2 separate regions of the Homo sapiens genome follow, and region 2 is linked to region 1. The links come from fine-mapping of genetic effects on gene expression. Tissue or cell type: whole blood. Region 1 holds a variant in brackets; the other region holds the start of a gene. All regions are shown on one strand. Distances are from middle to middle.

Region 1 (8,113 bases):
TAGAAAAGGGCTAGAATTCAGTAGCCCTAGCCAGTGTCAAAGTTCATTTTATACCATTTTATGAAAAATAGTAATTAATTTAAATCTCCAGATAAATGTGCCTATTTATATGTAGACATGACCTAGCAAGGAAAACTATATAACACAAGATGTATGATAGCAAGGAAGCAAGTCTTCTAAAAACTGGGTCTGATTCTGTAATCCACACAGAATCTTGTATGAATTAACTATCCAGGAAGGAAAACTAAGAGCTACATTCTAGTTTTCAAAGATAGAAAAAAGTCTTAGGAATCATGGGGAAGAAGAAACTGCTGAGATGTGAAATACAGTGGGTTAAAGAGTATTCTGTAAAAGACAATGTGGTAGAAGATAAATAAGCAGATTTATAATTTGTTCCTATGAACCTTCTCTACTTGCAACTTGCTAAAAGTCATGTTTTAATTAACTGGACAGGGATCCCTTTCTTCTCAGCATAGCTCCAAATATGTCCTTGGCATATTTAAAACTGCATAAAATAAGCAATAATGCCCTGACAATTCTGGCTTCAAAAACTGGCCATTTTATCCCTGAGTAGTTTTCCTGAAATGAAGGGCCAGCACTCTCAAGGCAGGCTTTTGACTCCTGTACCAAACTATAATTCACTTCTAACCTATAAACCCAGATAGAGAGTAGTGGAATGAAGGAGAGCTTTCTAATATCATATAAATCTATAAAATAGAGAGTCTTTGGTAGGAGCAAATACACATCATAAAATTATGTCCTCTACCTTTAGCAGCTGGGAAACATTACACACTACCACAATTCAATGGTGCCCTTTTAATTGCACATGCTTAAACAAAATACCGCATTATAATTACATTTGGCATTTCAAAGAGTCAAGAGTTCAAAACTGGAATGTGTTAGAATGAGAAAAATTATAACCAAATATCCCACATCAGGATGCAGCTTTTTGGACAAGCACAGTAATTCAGTTTCGGTATTTCATAAAAAGTGGTTTATTTCACTTTGCAATTTTCCATTTATTAGAAAATATCATTCATACAAAACAATATATAAATGCATATATTGACTTAAATAATTTTAGTAAATGATGCACCTATGTGTCCACTGCTGAGGTTAAGAAATAGAGACTGGCCAGTTTTTTCCAAATCCTCTATACATCTTCCCAATTATATCACCTTCCCATCCTACAAACAGAGGTTTTCGTCATTTTGACTTTTATAATAATCATCCCACGTTCTTTCGGCTTTAAATGATTTTACCACTTATGGATATATTTCTCCTATTTTTGAACCTTATGAATATGAATTCCTACACTATAATGTCTATGTCTTACTTATTTCATTCAATATGAGGTTTGGGTAGATTCACTGGGCAAAGCTCACATGTAACTGTCTCTCATTCAGTTTCCCTGCTGAACAGTGTTCCACCTTAAAACCAGTCTACAATGTATTTTCCATTCTACCATTGTCGGACATTTTGGTTATTTCCTGTAATATGTTATTAATTTTTATACATTTATTCCAGGAGTGAAATCCTTAGATCATATATTATGAGCATATTCAAACTTCCTATGAAATGTTGATCTATTTTTTAAATGTTTGGGCCAATTTATACATCATACCACCAATATTCATAAGTTCCTGTTGCTCCACATATATGCCAACATGACAGTGTCAGATTTAGTTTTTCACCTAAAGATTGGGTAAGACATGGTAACTCTTGTGGTTCTAACTTGCTTTTTTATTGCTAGTGAAGTTAGGCATCTTCTCATATTCCATAGTTTGAATGTAAGTGAGTAGAGTACAATGAGATATTTTGAGAGAGAGAAAGAGACCACATTCACCTAACTTGTATTACAGCATAACATTTAATTATTCTATTTTATTATTAGTTATTGTTGTGAATATATTACCCTGCCTACTTTGTAAATTAAACTTTATCATAGGTATGTATTTATGGGAGGGAAACATAGTGTGTACACACACACACACACACACACACACACACGGTTTAGTAGCATCCTCAGTTTCAGTCGTCCACTAGGGATCTTGGAACATATCCCCTGAGGATAAGGGGGAGACCACTGTATTGAGAATTTTGTGTTTCTTTTGAATTGTTAAACATGTTAGTCTTTGTCTTGCTTTTTTGTTCTGGATACTTCTTTTTTAGGAACTTTTAAGTATAAAATCAGCTTCTTTAATAGACAGAGGACTAGTTGAGTTGCCTATTTATCTTGAAATTCTCTGTTATTATTCTTTTGATATCTTTGGATTTTGTAACGAAATCCTCTCTCTCTTTCCTAGTATTGGTAATTTACATCCTCTATTTTTTTCTTTGTTAATCATTGTAGATATTTATTAAGTTTATTGGTCTTGCTTTTTTTTTTTTTAAAGCACAATTTAAAAAATTTGTTCATTGGCCAGGCGCGGTGGCTCACGCCTGTAATCCCAGCACTTTGGGAGGCGGAGGTGGACAGATCACGAGGTCAGGAGATCGAGACCATCCTGGCTAACACGGTGAAACCCCGTCTCTACTAAAAATACAAAAAATTAGCCAGGCGTGGTGGCGCCGCCTGTAGTCCCAGCTACTCAGGAAGCTGAGGCAGGAGAATGGCGTGAACCCTGGAGGCGGAGCTTGCAGTGAGTTGAGGCCTGGCCACTGCTCTCCAGCCTGGGGGACAGAGAGAGACTCCGTCTCAAAAAAAAAAAAAAAAAAAAAAGAAAAGAAAAGAAAAAGAAAAATTTGTTTATTGTTTTCTGTTTTCAATTTTAACAATTTCTGTTCTTATATGTATTACAAGATGCATTGCTTAACGACAGGGATATGCTCTGAGAAATGCATTGTTAGGCAATTTTGTTGTACAAACATCAGAGTGTATTTACACAAACCTAGATGGTATGACCTCCTGCACATCTGATATAGCACTAGGCTATATGGTATGCCTATTGCTGCTAGGCTACAAACCTATACAGTATGTTGCTCTACTGAATACTGCAGGCAACCACAACAGAATGGCACTTGTGTATCTATGTTTAGATACACAGATATAGCAAAGTTCATGCAATGCACTGGGACCTACAATGTCAACTAGGTGATAGGAATTTTCCTGCTCCATTATAATCTTTTGGGACTACTGTCGTACATGCAGTCCATCATTGACCAAAATACTGTTGTGACACATAACTGTATTTTCTTCTGCTTCTTATTTTACTATTGTTTTTATAGTTTCTTATACCGGAAATTGAGATTACAGAGACTTTCCTCCTTTTATAATGTATGTATTTACTGTTACACATCTTCCCTTTGTGCATTGCTTTAACTAAATTTGACTTAATTTGTTATGTTGCATTTTCATTCAAAATGTGTTCTAATTTCTCTTGAAACATTTTCTTTGACTCATATTATTTTGAATCATGAGCTTTAATTTTCAAATATTTGAAGGTTTTGTTTTTTTCTTTTGTTATTTATTTCTAGTATAATT[C/T]CATTATGGTCAGAGAACATACTTTGTGTGATTTCAATTATGTTTGTTAATGTGTGACTATGAGCCAGAATATCATCTATCTTGATGAATATTCCATGTGTCCCTCAAAATAATGTGTATTTTGCTATCTTTGGATAGAATTCTATAAAAATCAAGTAGATAAAGTTGGTTGATGGCATTGTTTTGTTCTTCTATATCCTTGCTAACTCTGTTAACTAGTCCTTTCTGTTACTAAGAAAGAAATGTTGACTGTCCAACTATATTTGCTGATATGTCTATTTTTTCTTTCAATGCTGTAGGTTTTTGCTTTGTGTGTTTTGAAGATCTGTGGCTTAGCTCATATAAATTGATAATTCTTATGTCTTCTTGGTAAATTAAGCCTTTTTATTATGTAATGTCCATCTTTATTCCTGGTAATCTTTGCTCTGAGTCTGCTTTGTGATATTAACATAGTCATTCCAGTTTTTGTTTGATTAGTGTTTGTGTAGTGATATGGTTTGGCTGTGTCCCCACCCAAATCTCATCTTGAATTCCCACATGTTGTAGGAGGGACCCAGTAGGAAGTAATTGAATCATGGGGCAGGTCTTTCCCGTGCTGTTCTAATGATGGTGAATAAGTCTCACAAGATCTGATGGTTTTATAAGGGTAAGTTTCTTCGAACAAGCTCTCTCTTTGCCTGCTGCTATCCACATAAGATGTGACTTGCTCCTCCTTGCCTTCTGCCATGATTGTGAGGCCTCCCCACCCATGTGGGACTGTAAGTCTATTAGACCTCTTTCTTTTGTAAATTGCCTAGTCTTGGGCTCATCTTTATTAACAGTGTGAAAAGGACTAATATATGTGGTATATTATTTTTCATCATTTTACTTTTAACCTATCTGTGTAACTATATTTTAAGTGGCTCTCTTTGCAGCATATAAGTAATTTTTAAAATCACTCCAACCATCTCTGTCTTTTAATTGGTGTGTCCAGACCATTTATGTTTAAATTAATTATTGATGGGTTTAGATTTAGGACTATCATTTTATTTTCTGGTTTTGTACTTATTCCCCTTATTTTATATTACTCTGTTTCCTATTTTAAGTCTTCTTTTGGGTAAAAGAATTCAAGATAAGAAGACTAACTTATTACATTTGCTTTGGTCTGAATATTTGTTTCCCCTCAAAGTTCACATGTTAAAATCCTAACCCCCAAGGTGATGGTTTTAAGAGGTAGGATCTTTGGGATTTGATTAGATCACAAAGGTAGAGCCCTTATGAATGAGATTAGTGTACTCTTATTTTAAAAAAAGGCTTAAGGGAGGTTGTTTGCCACTTCCATCATGTGAGGATACACTAAGAAGGTGCCATCTATGAGCCAGGAAACAAGCTCTTAGCAGACACTAAATCTGCTACCCCTTGATCTTGGACTTCCCAGTCTTGAGAACTCTGAGAGATAAATTTCTGTTGTTTATAACCTACCCTGGTTTATCGTATTTCTTTAGAGAAGCCCAAATGAACTATGACAACTTTTCATTGAAATGTTGCTCTTTCTTTTCTTCTCCCTTAATTCCTGGAGTTTCAAGTGTTTTGTTTCAGAAACAATTTCCCTTCTATCTAAAAACCTTCCTTTAGAAATTCTTTTAAAGCATGACTGATAGATACAAGTTCTTTCAGTTTTCTTTCATCTGAGGACATTTTTAATTTTATATCTAAATGAAATATCCTATCTAAATGAAATATCCTTCAGTAGTGAGAATTTCACTACTGAAGGATATTTCATTTAGATATAAAATTCTGGATTAAACATAATAAAACATTTTCTTAATTAGGAATTGACAGTTTTTTCTTTCAGCATTTCTTCTTGTCTGCCATGATTTCTGATGAGAAGTATTGAAGTTTCTAAATCATTCTTCCCCTATAGTTAATGTGTCACTTTTCTTTGGCTGCTTTAAGCACTTTTTCTTCGTCTTCGGTTTTCAGCAGTTTTATTATGATATGTCTGTGCATAGATTTCTTTGAGTTTATCCTATTTGGGATTTGCTTCACTTCTTTTATACATTTTCTAAAAAATAAAGTTTGGAAGATTTCTGTCATTATTTTTTATTTTTTTCATCATTACCCTATCTTTCTGAAACTCCAGTGGCATGGTTAGATCTTCAGGTATCATCCTGTTGGTCCTTGAGATTTTGTTCTTTTGTAAGTTGTTTTCTTTGTCTTGTTTCGGTTAAATGAGTTTTTTCTCCTGATCCGTCTTCAAGTTCACTGACTCTGTGCTCCGTTATCTCCATCCTGCTGTTGAACTCAGTGAGATTTTTATTGGAGGATAGAAGAAGGTGTTTATTGTATTTTCCCATCCTAAAATTTCAGTTTGGTTCTTTATATCTTTGATTTCTTTGCTAAAGCTTTTTGTTTAACCTTTGTTGCAAGAGTGTTCACAATTGCTTCTGGAAACATTTGTATAATAGCTACTTTAAAGTCTTTGTCAGCTAATTCCAACATCTATTGTCATCTCAGCTTTGCTGTCTGTTGATTGTCTTTTCTCATGTGAATTGAAATGTTTGTGCTTCTTTCTATGCTGAGTCATTTTTGACATTTTGTGAATTACTTCAAGATTCTTTGGAGTCTTGTTTAAATTCTACGCAGATTGTTAATATTTTGTTTCAGTAGGTTTGGGCCACAAGTTTTTGTTTGTTTGTTTCTTTTTTTGAGATGGAGTTTCACTCTTGTTGCCCAGGCTAGAGTGCAGTGGCATGATCTCGGTTCACTGCAACCTCTGCCTCCTGGGTTCAAGTGATTCTCCTGCCTCAGCCTCCCAAGTAGCTGGGATTACAGGTGTACACCACCGTGCCAGGCTCATTTTGTATTTTTAGCAGAGACAGGGTTTCACCATGTTTGTGAGGCTAGTCTTGAAGTCCTGACCTCAAGTGATCCACCCTCCTCAGCCTCCCACAAGTTCTAACCCACCCCCTATAGACTGTGGTTCCAGTGTTAGTTCAGTGTTCCAAACCTTTGTTGTGCTGTTTGCTCTCTCCTGGGTATGCACTCCACAGTGTTCAGTCTGGGACCTAGACTATCTGTTAGTTCAGTGCTCATAGATCTTTGATGTGCTGTTTGGGGTCAGATCTATGCATATGCAGGTTACATGAAAGTCCTATCATTCCTAAAGGACTTTCTTGGGTCACTTTTCTGAGCTCCTTTCTCTCCACAGTCTCCCCAGTACTTTGGCTTCCTGTGGCTTCATTTTTTGGTGGGCTGTCTCATGAAATTACTCTTGTCAAACTCTGTAATGCATTTCTATGATGGAGCACACATTCTCGCTCTACTGGAGCAAGGACTGAAAGATATAAAAAGCAATGGCATTTGCCCCATCCTTTTGAAAATGCAGCTACACCCGATGGCATCAAAGGTGCTCCTCCCTGAGAGCTATGGTTTTTGAGGTTTTCCGTAGCTTCTATCTCCATGGTTTTCCACGACTGGGATTAAGGTAGATTCTTCCTGAGAGGATTTCTCTTCATTTCTGGAAGTTATCTGAGTGCATTAACAATTTAAGATCACTTAAAGTTAAATACTTGAATTTGTTCATATCACATAAGTAATATGAATTCTAACTTCAAATTGATATAAGATTAGACTTGTAGTTATAATACTGTAGGGTGTTAAAGAAAAACTTATTCTGACACTTGTTAAAACTATAAGGAAGACTTTATCAGAGCTATTGTAATCGATGTCCTGAATATTGTAATAGGTGGTCAAGATTGGGTTCAACTCTGAATACAGCAAAAGCAACAAGGTGTCTATAGCCTATGAGAAGAGTGAGGGGGTCATGAATGGAGAATTGCTAAGAGGAGACATCAAAGGTAGGGAATTCTGGCTAAACAGTCTTAACAGGGTTCTTACTGATAACAGGTCAGGGTGACCAGGTATGAAGAGTGGAGGATTCTCTCTAAATTGACTTGGCAGGATTTAAAAACTGGACTCATGGAACAGGGAAAAAAGGAATGAAGAATTCTTGCTAAAACTGGATTCAAAGAACAAGAATCAAAGACAGGGTCCTAGGATGAGGCCTGGTTCAAAAGAGGATTCACAGGAGCTGCTAAAGTTTGGTCAAAAAGAGGGTTTAGGGACTCGTTTTTAAGTCTTTCTTCCCTTTCAGTGCCTAGATTCAAGATAATCAATATATTTTGAAACTGAGGGAAGAAGGGTTTGTTAGTTACATCTCCTTTCAGATTTCTCAGCTTGCTGAAATAGAAGCTTTGTTTCCAGTCTCCAATGCCCTGAAGGCCATAAAAAGGAAAGTTCAATTTTTTTGTTATTTAAAAGCCACCTGCATTTATTAGCTTTCAAAGTTTCAGCCTTCAAATGGATTTTCGCTTGGGTATTTTTTACTTCTGCAAGTTCAACTCCACATTTAGGATTTTAAATTTTAATTTATCTGGCATTTGAGTTGTTATCATTGAAAGAGTCTATCTGAGAAACTAACTCACCACACAGTTGGAAACAGAAGTTTCTATGTATGTTTCAATAGTGAATTCTTTTTATATTTCCAGAATAATTGCTTAGTTGGTAATATTTGGGTTCTAATTTTTCTTTCTTCTAAATAGTAAAAAACGTTTTGACTTTTTATCACAAAGGACAAACATAAATTAA
Region 2 (8,113 bases), 71 kb before region 1:
GTTGGAAGATTTAAATTATTAAATTTGATAATCAATAAGTTTTATAACTAATAATTAAATTTAGTGTTAGTTTTAAATTTATTTTACTAAACTATATAAAATTGCCATATATAAGGTAAAAATGTTCCAATATCAATAATTTTATGTTTCAATCTAATATTTTCATCTTTACCATGAGTGACTCAGGAGAATAATGGAGAAGAGTTTGGATTCAGGAGTCAAACAGATAAGGCTTCAAATTATACAGCCAAATCATGTATTAGCTGTGTATTTGTGGATCATTTATTTAATCTTTATTAGGCCTTGATTTCTTCAACTGAAAATGAGTGATATTAATAATATCCACTGCATTAAATTATTGTGAATATTAAAAGAATCACTGCATACACTGTGTTATTATAGAGTGAATGCTGAAAAAATGTTAGTAGAAGTTATTATTAATTTTTTTTAGACAGGATCCCACTCTGCCACCCAGGCTGGAGTAAAGTGATGCCATCATAATTCATTACAGTCTTGACATCCTGGGCTCAAGTGATCCTCCCACCTCAGCCACCTGAGTAGCTGGGACTACAGGTGTGTTCCACCACTCCCAGCCAATTTTTTCGATTTTTAGTAGAGGAGGTCTTGCTATGTTGCCCAGGTTGGTTTTGAATTCCTGAGCTCAAGTGACCCTCCTGCTTTGGCCTCCCAAAGTGCTGGGATTATAGGTGTGAGCCACCGGACCCAGCAGAAGTTATTACTAGCATTGGATTTAATTAATATTTATATTATATTTCCCACCATTTTCTTTTTCCTCTTGAATTTCCTGATTAGTTTGCCTGGTTTACATGAACTGCTCTTCAATTTCAAGCCCATTGCATTTTCAAACATTATATAATTTGATACTATGAACATTATGAGTTTGATGGGTAGGAATTATTATTCCCCTTTTCCAAACAAGGAAATCAGGTTATGTGATTTTTTTTCAAAGATCACACAAACTAGTAAAAGGCAAAGCCAGGATTAGAACTCACTAATCTTTTTATCATGTTGGCTTTTATAAGGACCTTTTAAATGGATATTTCTGGGCAGCAAGTATTCTAACATCAATGGCACTGAATTACCATTATTATTTTAGAGAAAGTCTTCTCTCATTCATTATAAATTTCTGTAATAGCCAACAATTATTTAGCAACTAATATGTACCTCATATTATACAGTGTACGTATATACTAGTACCTCATACTATGTAGCATATGTACTTCTGCTATATACATAACAATTCATAAGATTGGTAACTCTCATTATCCCTGTTTTACAAATACAAAAACTGAAAGCTAGTGAGTAGTGAAGCCAATATTTGAAACAAAGCAGTTTGCCTCCAGGACCTATGCTCTTAAACACTGTGTTATACTACCTCTTAGCAAACAGTACTACAAGCTTTTAAAAAATATATATTTTAAAAAGTGTTCATTGTTGTACTTAACTTTTTTTTTTTTTGAGACAGGGTCTCACTCTGTCTCCCAGGTTGGAGGGCAGTGGCACAATCATGGCTCACTGCAGCCTCGGCCTCCCCAGGTTCAGGCCATCCTCAAGCCTCCCGAGTAGCTGAAACTAAAGGCACGCACCACCATGCCCCAGCTAATTTTTGCATTTTTTGTAGAGACAGAGTTTTGCCACTTTGCCCAGGCTGGTCTCCAATTCTTGGACTCAAGTGATCCGCCTGCCTTGGTCTCCCAAAGTACTGAAATTACAGGTGTGAGTCACCATGCCCGGCCAGTACTGCAAACTTTCACTGCCTTTCAAACTTCCATTGATTCTCAAGCAGTGCATCTCAACATGTTATATGTAAAAAAAAAAAAAAGACAAAACAAAAAAACTTTGCCCCCTCAAAATTTGATGTGCTATACTGAATAGAAATAGTTTCTGAGGAGGTTTCTACTCTCACAGGCAGAACTGGCTACATATTTAGTAGAGCCCAGTGCAAAAGAAATATATGGGGTCCCTTGTTAAGAAGTTATGAAACATTTTAATTAAGAATGTGACAGTAGAGCATTAACTCAACTGTGTGATCTTTTTTGAGTGTGAAGCACTGTGAGACTACACAGTAGCATACCATGAAACCCACCCTGCTCACAGGGTCATAATTCTGAATCCAGCCTTGTTCCCGTGCAGCTATCATTTTGCAGACCTGCATAAAGCTTTGTAGCAGAAATACTCGTGACCTTTTAGTAAGTCTTTCCCAGTAACACTCTAGTATCTCAACTGAGAGCATTCGGAGGAAACAGGAAGTAGGACTTGGGAGGGAAACAAGGCTACCAGGCTACAGTCTAGATGACGTGTTCTATGAAAAAGGAGAAGCATAGACCAATTTTTGTCTTAGCAGCCAGAGTGAGATGGTAGTCAGGAAGTGGGACGAAGAAAGAGGAAGCTCTCGGGAACTCCCACCACCCCACAAAGGGGGAATTACTCTTTTCTTCCATCAGAATGGTGGCAGAAACCTGTGAAATACATCCATTTGTCTTTGTTTCTTGGAAGGGGTTCATGTTAATTTATGTCTAAAATTAACAAGCCTGGCATTGGTTATTCAAATGCTTTTTGCCCTTTTAAAAATATAGACAAAAATAATGTTTTAACCTTTCTTCCTTCTAAAAGTAGAAAAGAATTGCATTACTGAAAAATACCTGTTATTAATTCTTAGACTTTGTTGTGCACAAGGGTATTGTCATTCAATTCTGTAGGCAGTCAAGAATCAGAGTCGGTGCTTTTAGAATCCAAGTACATAGGCTTAAGCTCTGGTCCCTCCCGTTATTGATTCTGCAATCTTGAGAAAGTTAATTGACCTCTCTGAACCTTAGCTTTTTAATCTGCAAAATGAGAAAAATCTTAAATAATAACAACCTCAGAGGATTACTATATGCATTTGATGCATAAAGGTACTTAGTGTAATACCTGCCTGCCACATCACAAGAACTCAACAAATTATAGATATTTTTATTTCATGTAAATGCACATGTTTGTATACATAAATATTCATACATGTATAAATATATTTTACACATGTATATAAAGTGTGTAATATAGACACATATGTATGTATATATGTATGTGTATATATACATACATATATTTTGAGTTCCTGAGTTTTTAAGCTGTCAGATATTGGTGAGGAGAAATGCTTAGTTAGGAGGATGCCTGTAACAGAGCTTCTTTTTGGGCTTCTGCCTGTCATTGCTAACTCAATATTCAACTTACATAGCATTTAAATTGAATTACTGCTGCCTGCACAATTATGGGCTTTCTTAGTATAATCCCTATGCTTCACATCAAGAAGACTGAGTGTTTACTTGAATCTAAACCTAATATAATGCTTGGAAAAAGCCAGGTGTGCTTCCTGTCTGAAATGGTGGTAATGTACTTCCAGATGTTTTTCAGAGCATTGATTGGGATATATAAATTGCCATCTATTAAGGTTATTTTACTTAGCATCTCTCTCCCTAATCCCTAGCTATCTGATGTATCTTTTATGTGTTTCTTGATTTTAAGCACAGAAAATAAAATGGAAAATAACTTGAAGCTCTAGTATCTTTTTGCTAGTACACCAACATAGCATATATCCAGGTTTCCCTTTAAAATTTCAGTTTTATAGTTCCCTCAAAGTTATTGAAAACAGAGGTTTCGTTATTATATTCTCAATACAGAATTCACTAAGAAAATTAATTTTAAAAAAGAAGAAAAGCAGAGGCAACTGTATTCCCAATATAAGCAGTATTTACCACTTCTTATTGTGTAAATATGCAAATAAAATGAAAATAAGGAATGCTTCTCTGTTGCTTTGGTAGTGGATAAAATAAGTTCAACAGTGTTTTTCTAAAAATCTATTTGGTAAATGTGTTTCCTGTGAAATGAGTTACTTGTTTTTTGTCATTCAATTGCAAAACTGCATGTGAAAATAAAATAAATGTGAATGTGAAAATAAAAGCCTCACAAAAATTCCTCTGCATGAACATCTCTGACTGGGAGGTTTGACTGAATAAATTATTCCTGGGCTTTTGAATTATTAATCTTGGCTGCAGGATATGCAAATAGGATATGCAAATAGGACACTGTAATAACCATGTCCAGTGGCACAACACTGGGTCAGAAGCTATATCCAGCTGCTGGCAGAGTTCCTGTCAAGGGATCAAGTCTTCCAACAGAATGGTAAGCTACATGGCAAATTGTGCCTCTCAGTGTATAAAGTAAGGCCAGATTTCCTTCTAAAGGTGACCTGTGAGCAATTAAGGTTTTCAGTATTAAGTGTTTAAATTAATTCTTTATAAATAGATGTAAAACAGCAAAATAATTGAAAAAAAAAAGTCATTTTTATCTCTACGTTTATTTTTCAACAAATTAACTGTCTTCTTTTAGTTGTCAAATACTAATTTTATTTTATGTAAAAGGATTTATTATATTTGCTAACATCTCAACAACTTATATTTCAACAAAATAGTAATTGGATTTACCTAAATAAATATAACTACTTATGGGGAAAAATTAAAGTTCCTAAATGATTTGAAACAATCATGTATTTGATACATACACACACACACACACACACACACACACACACATATACATACATATATATATATATATATATATTTTTTTTTTTTTTTTTTTTTTTTAAGACAGAGTTTCACTCTTGTCACCCAGGCTAGAGTGTCTGAGTGCCAGAGTGACACATTTACAGCATGTGTTGGCTCACTGCAACCTCCGCCTCTGGGGTTCAAGCAATTCTCCTGCCTCAGCCTGCAGAGTAGCTAGGATTACAAGCGCCCACCACCACGCCCGGCTATTTTTTTTGGATTTTTTAGTAGAGATGGAGTTTCACCATGTTGGTCAGGTTGGTCTCAAACTCCTGACCTCAGGTGATCCACTCATCTCGGCCTCTCCAAGTGTTGGGATTCCAGGCATGAGCCACTGTGCTGGGGCATAATATTTTTATGTTTAGAAAATAATGTATTTGGGGGAATTTTCAGGCATCCTAAAAATTAAATTTAACATTTATGTGTGTAAAAATGATATTACCCAATAATTAATTTACTTAGGAAAAATGAAAAATTGCAGAAACCATTTCTATTCTACCTTCCATAACTTTTCAAAATGTGTGTGGTATTCTTAAAGAAGTTAATACACAATTTGTGCCATACTATTACTTTTTAATACCTTAATTTCTGGTGTAATGTATGGAATACATAAAAATAAAGTTACAAATGTTAAATTATTATATCTTTTCAGTGTGAATATATATTTTTGCTCAAATTATTTAGTAATCAAAAAAGTAATTTGTTAAAAAAAATTCTCATGTTACCATGTAAATTTGCCTTAAGGTAGCACTTAAAAGTAAACATTTTACAAATGTTATTTGTTTAATTGTGATGACTATAAAAACAAACAATTAAAAAGCTAAGAAACTATCACATATATATTTTAAAGTAAATTTCAAAAATGCAGATTTTCAAAAGGCTGAATATATTTAAAGTAAAAAACATTTTCAAGTTAAGTATTATTGGTCTGCTTATGTGAGTAAATTAGATATTGCTTCTAGTTCAATAATTCTAACAGTTTTAGATATATTTTTGGACTGGAAACTAAAGATTTCACTTTAATTTCTGCTCTTAAAAAATACCTATTCAAAATAATTCATCCAAATCAGTTACAATTTATTTATCACTATTTCCATTTCCTAAAAATTAAGAATATAGCCACTAGATAGCAGAAGAGAGAATATGAATTTTTCATGAGGGAATTTTCTCTTTAATTGGGAGTTTTGCTTAAAGGAGCAACTTACTTCATATGTTTATAGAATTGCGATGCCACACTAAAAACATACCCAACTATAAACATATCCAATTTGAAATATAGTATCTTCAAAATTTTGTATCCTAGTGAAGTTAAATTGGTCTGCAAATATTGCACAGCTCATATTTATAAAATCATAATCTATTAGAATTATGAACTTAGAAAAAATGAAACAAATGTATCAAAAAATTATAAAACATCATAAAAAAATCTCATTTTTATGAATAAAAATTCAGGTAAATATTAAAATGTAAAAGGGTACCCAAATATTAGGAGTGGTCTGTTTACAGACCATTTTTATTTCTTATTTTTGCCTATTTGATTTTATGAGTGTTACACCTTAACAATAATTTTACACATACATTTTTAAAAAGTTGTTTCAAAAAAATGAAGAAACAACTGTATGAGAAGAAAGACAAATATGATAATTTAGTCATTCATTTCTCTTATTTCAGCTCTACTCCTTCCCTACTACTCCTTCAATCCCCGACCTTCTGGGCTACTATAAAGCAGAATGCTCCTTGACTTTCATGTGACCCGTCACCTGCCTGAGTGATAGTTGCAGGAAATCAGGCTCTAGTTGCACAAGTCTTTGTGGCTATATTTTCCTTCCATTGCAGTCAAATCTTTCTGCTGTGCACAATACATAAGCTATTAACATTACCAGTGGTGACTAGGCAGAAAGATAAACGTTATGACCAGAAAAAAAGGAAATGCAAAAGTGAAACAAATTTCTTGTGTCAAGGAAACTTTCTATACCTTAATTTTCATTTGAATTTGTGCACCAGCTTTTTGAGTACCCACAAAATAACAAGAGCTCAGAAATAAGGCCTGAGAAGGTCCAACATTTAAAACTTGGGCAAAGAAGGATTAAGCCACAAAAGAGCATGAAAATGGAGAAAGGAGGAAAACAAGGAGATTGTTGTGTCATAGAAGATAGGAAGAGAGTGCTTCCAGAAAGTGTGGACTTAAAAGCTACTGAGAATAAATAATAATAGTAAAAACTGACCATTGAGCTAAAAAAAATAAAGTTTGTTAATATGTTAAAGCCTATTGACATTTTTGCTATATTTCTAGAAATTTAAAGTTTTTAATATTATCAAATAGATGCCAATTTTGAGAGAAAAAATGATAGGAAATTTAGATAAAAGGAGAAAGGAAATAATAAAAACTACCTGAAATCTCATCATTAGAGATAAAGCTATTAACATTTTGATGCACGTCTTTCTAGACTTCTTATGCTTATTAATTTCAGGTGTCATTTCTTAATTAAATGCTTCAGTTTTAAAATTTATCCTGGTAGATATTTAATTTTGCCTTATACAAATGTGTTTCTAAACTACAGCTACTACTACTACAATTACTAATTTTTAATACTTATCATATTATATTATATATAGTGTTGACTTTCACAGTGAAATAAGCAATGAGCTTAATCTGATGGTCTTGCTGCTTATCTGGCCTTGGAGAAAATATTTATAAAAATGCTTTGTAAATAGTCAGGTGTTCATATTCATCTCTTCACTCAACAAAGATTTATAGATCACCTACTATCTGCTGGTCACTGTGCCAGATGTGGACAATAAAAAATGAGTAAGACAAAGTTATACAAAATTCTAAGAAGTTTAGTATACAATGAAAGCATAAATGGGAGGACCTACTTTAGACTGAGGGTCAGACAGCCTACCTTGGGAAACCTACACTTGAACAGAGGCCTGAGAGAAGTATAGATATATGACAAATATGTGATGGGCCAGGAATCACAGGACAAAAACAGCAGTGAAAAGAGATTCAGATAGAGGGACTGCATGTTAAGAAGGCTCTCTGTGCATTCAAAGAGCAGGAAGAAAGGAAGATGAATTAGGAGGAGAGTAATGCCAAGCAAAATTGAAGTGGGTGCAGGGGCCAGATCATGCAGACCTTGATGTCCCCATTAAGGATTTTAGACTATATTCCTTGGATAGTGGAAAGTTAATTAAGGGTTTTGATCAAGGAAAGCTATATGATCTGATTTTGAGTTGTAGTTTTTCAAGACTGTTTAGCTATAATGGTAAAGATGAACTGATGAGGGCCAGAGAGGATGTGAGGAGACAATAGCAGAATATGACATAGAGCAAAATAGAGATAAGAGTAGCCTGGACGAGAATGATAATGAAAGCTATAGAGCAGTAATGATAGATTTGAGAAATACCCAGACATTACAGTAAACAGACTTGGTAGTTTATTCATTACTGGTGTTGAGTTTTAGATGACTTTGAGGATATTGCTTAGATTTTCGTGGTGAGCACCT

What was found. PIP is the estimated chance that this variant, and not a neighbour inherited with it, causes the effect.
Region 2: SUCNR1 starts here. The variant in region 1 is fine-mapped to the expression of SUCNR1 in whole blood (TOPMed, PIP above 0.99).

What each region holds. Positions count from the first base shown.
Region 1 is chr3:151,940,801-151,948,913 of GRCh38, forward strand. The region is part of intron 1 of LOC107986047 (a long non-coding RNA gene); the gene reads right to left. Among named protein-coding and RNA genes, the nearest start is that of AADACL2-AS1, 17 kb to the left of the region's middle. The variant C/T (reference allele first, on the strand shown) is at 3,485.
Region 2 is chr3:151,869,525-151,877,637 of GRCh38, forward strand. It overlaps SUCNR1 (succinate receptor 1), which reads left to right and starts at 4,119. Exons shown (of 3, transcript NM_033050.6): 1 at 4,119-4,182. The region is part of intron 1 of AADACL2-AS1 (AADACL2 antisense RNA 1); the gene reads right to left.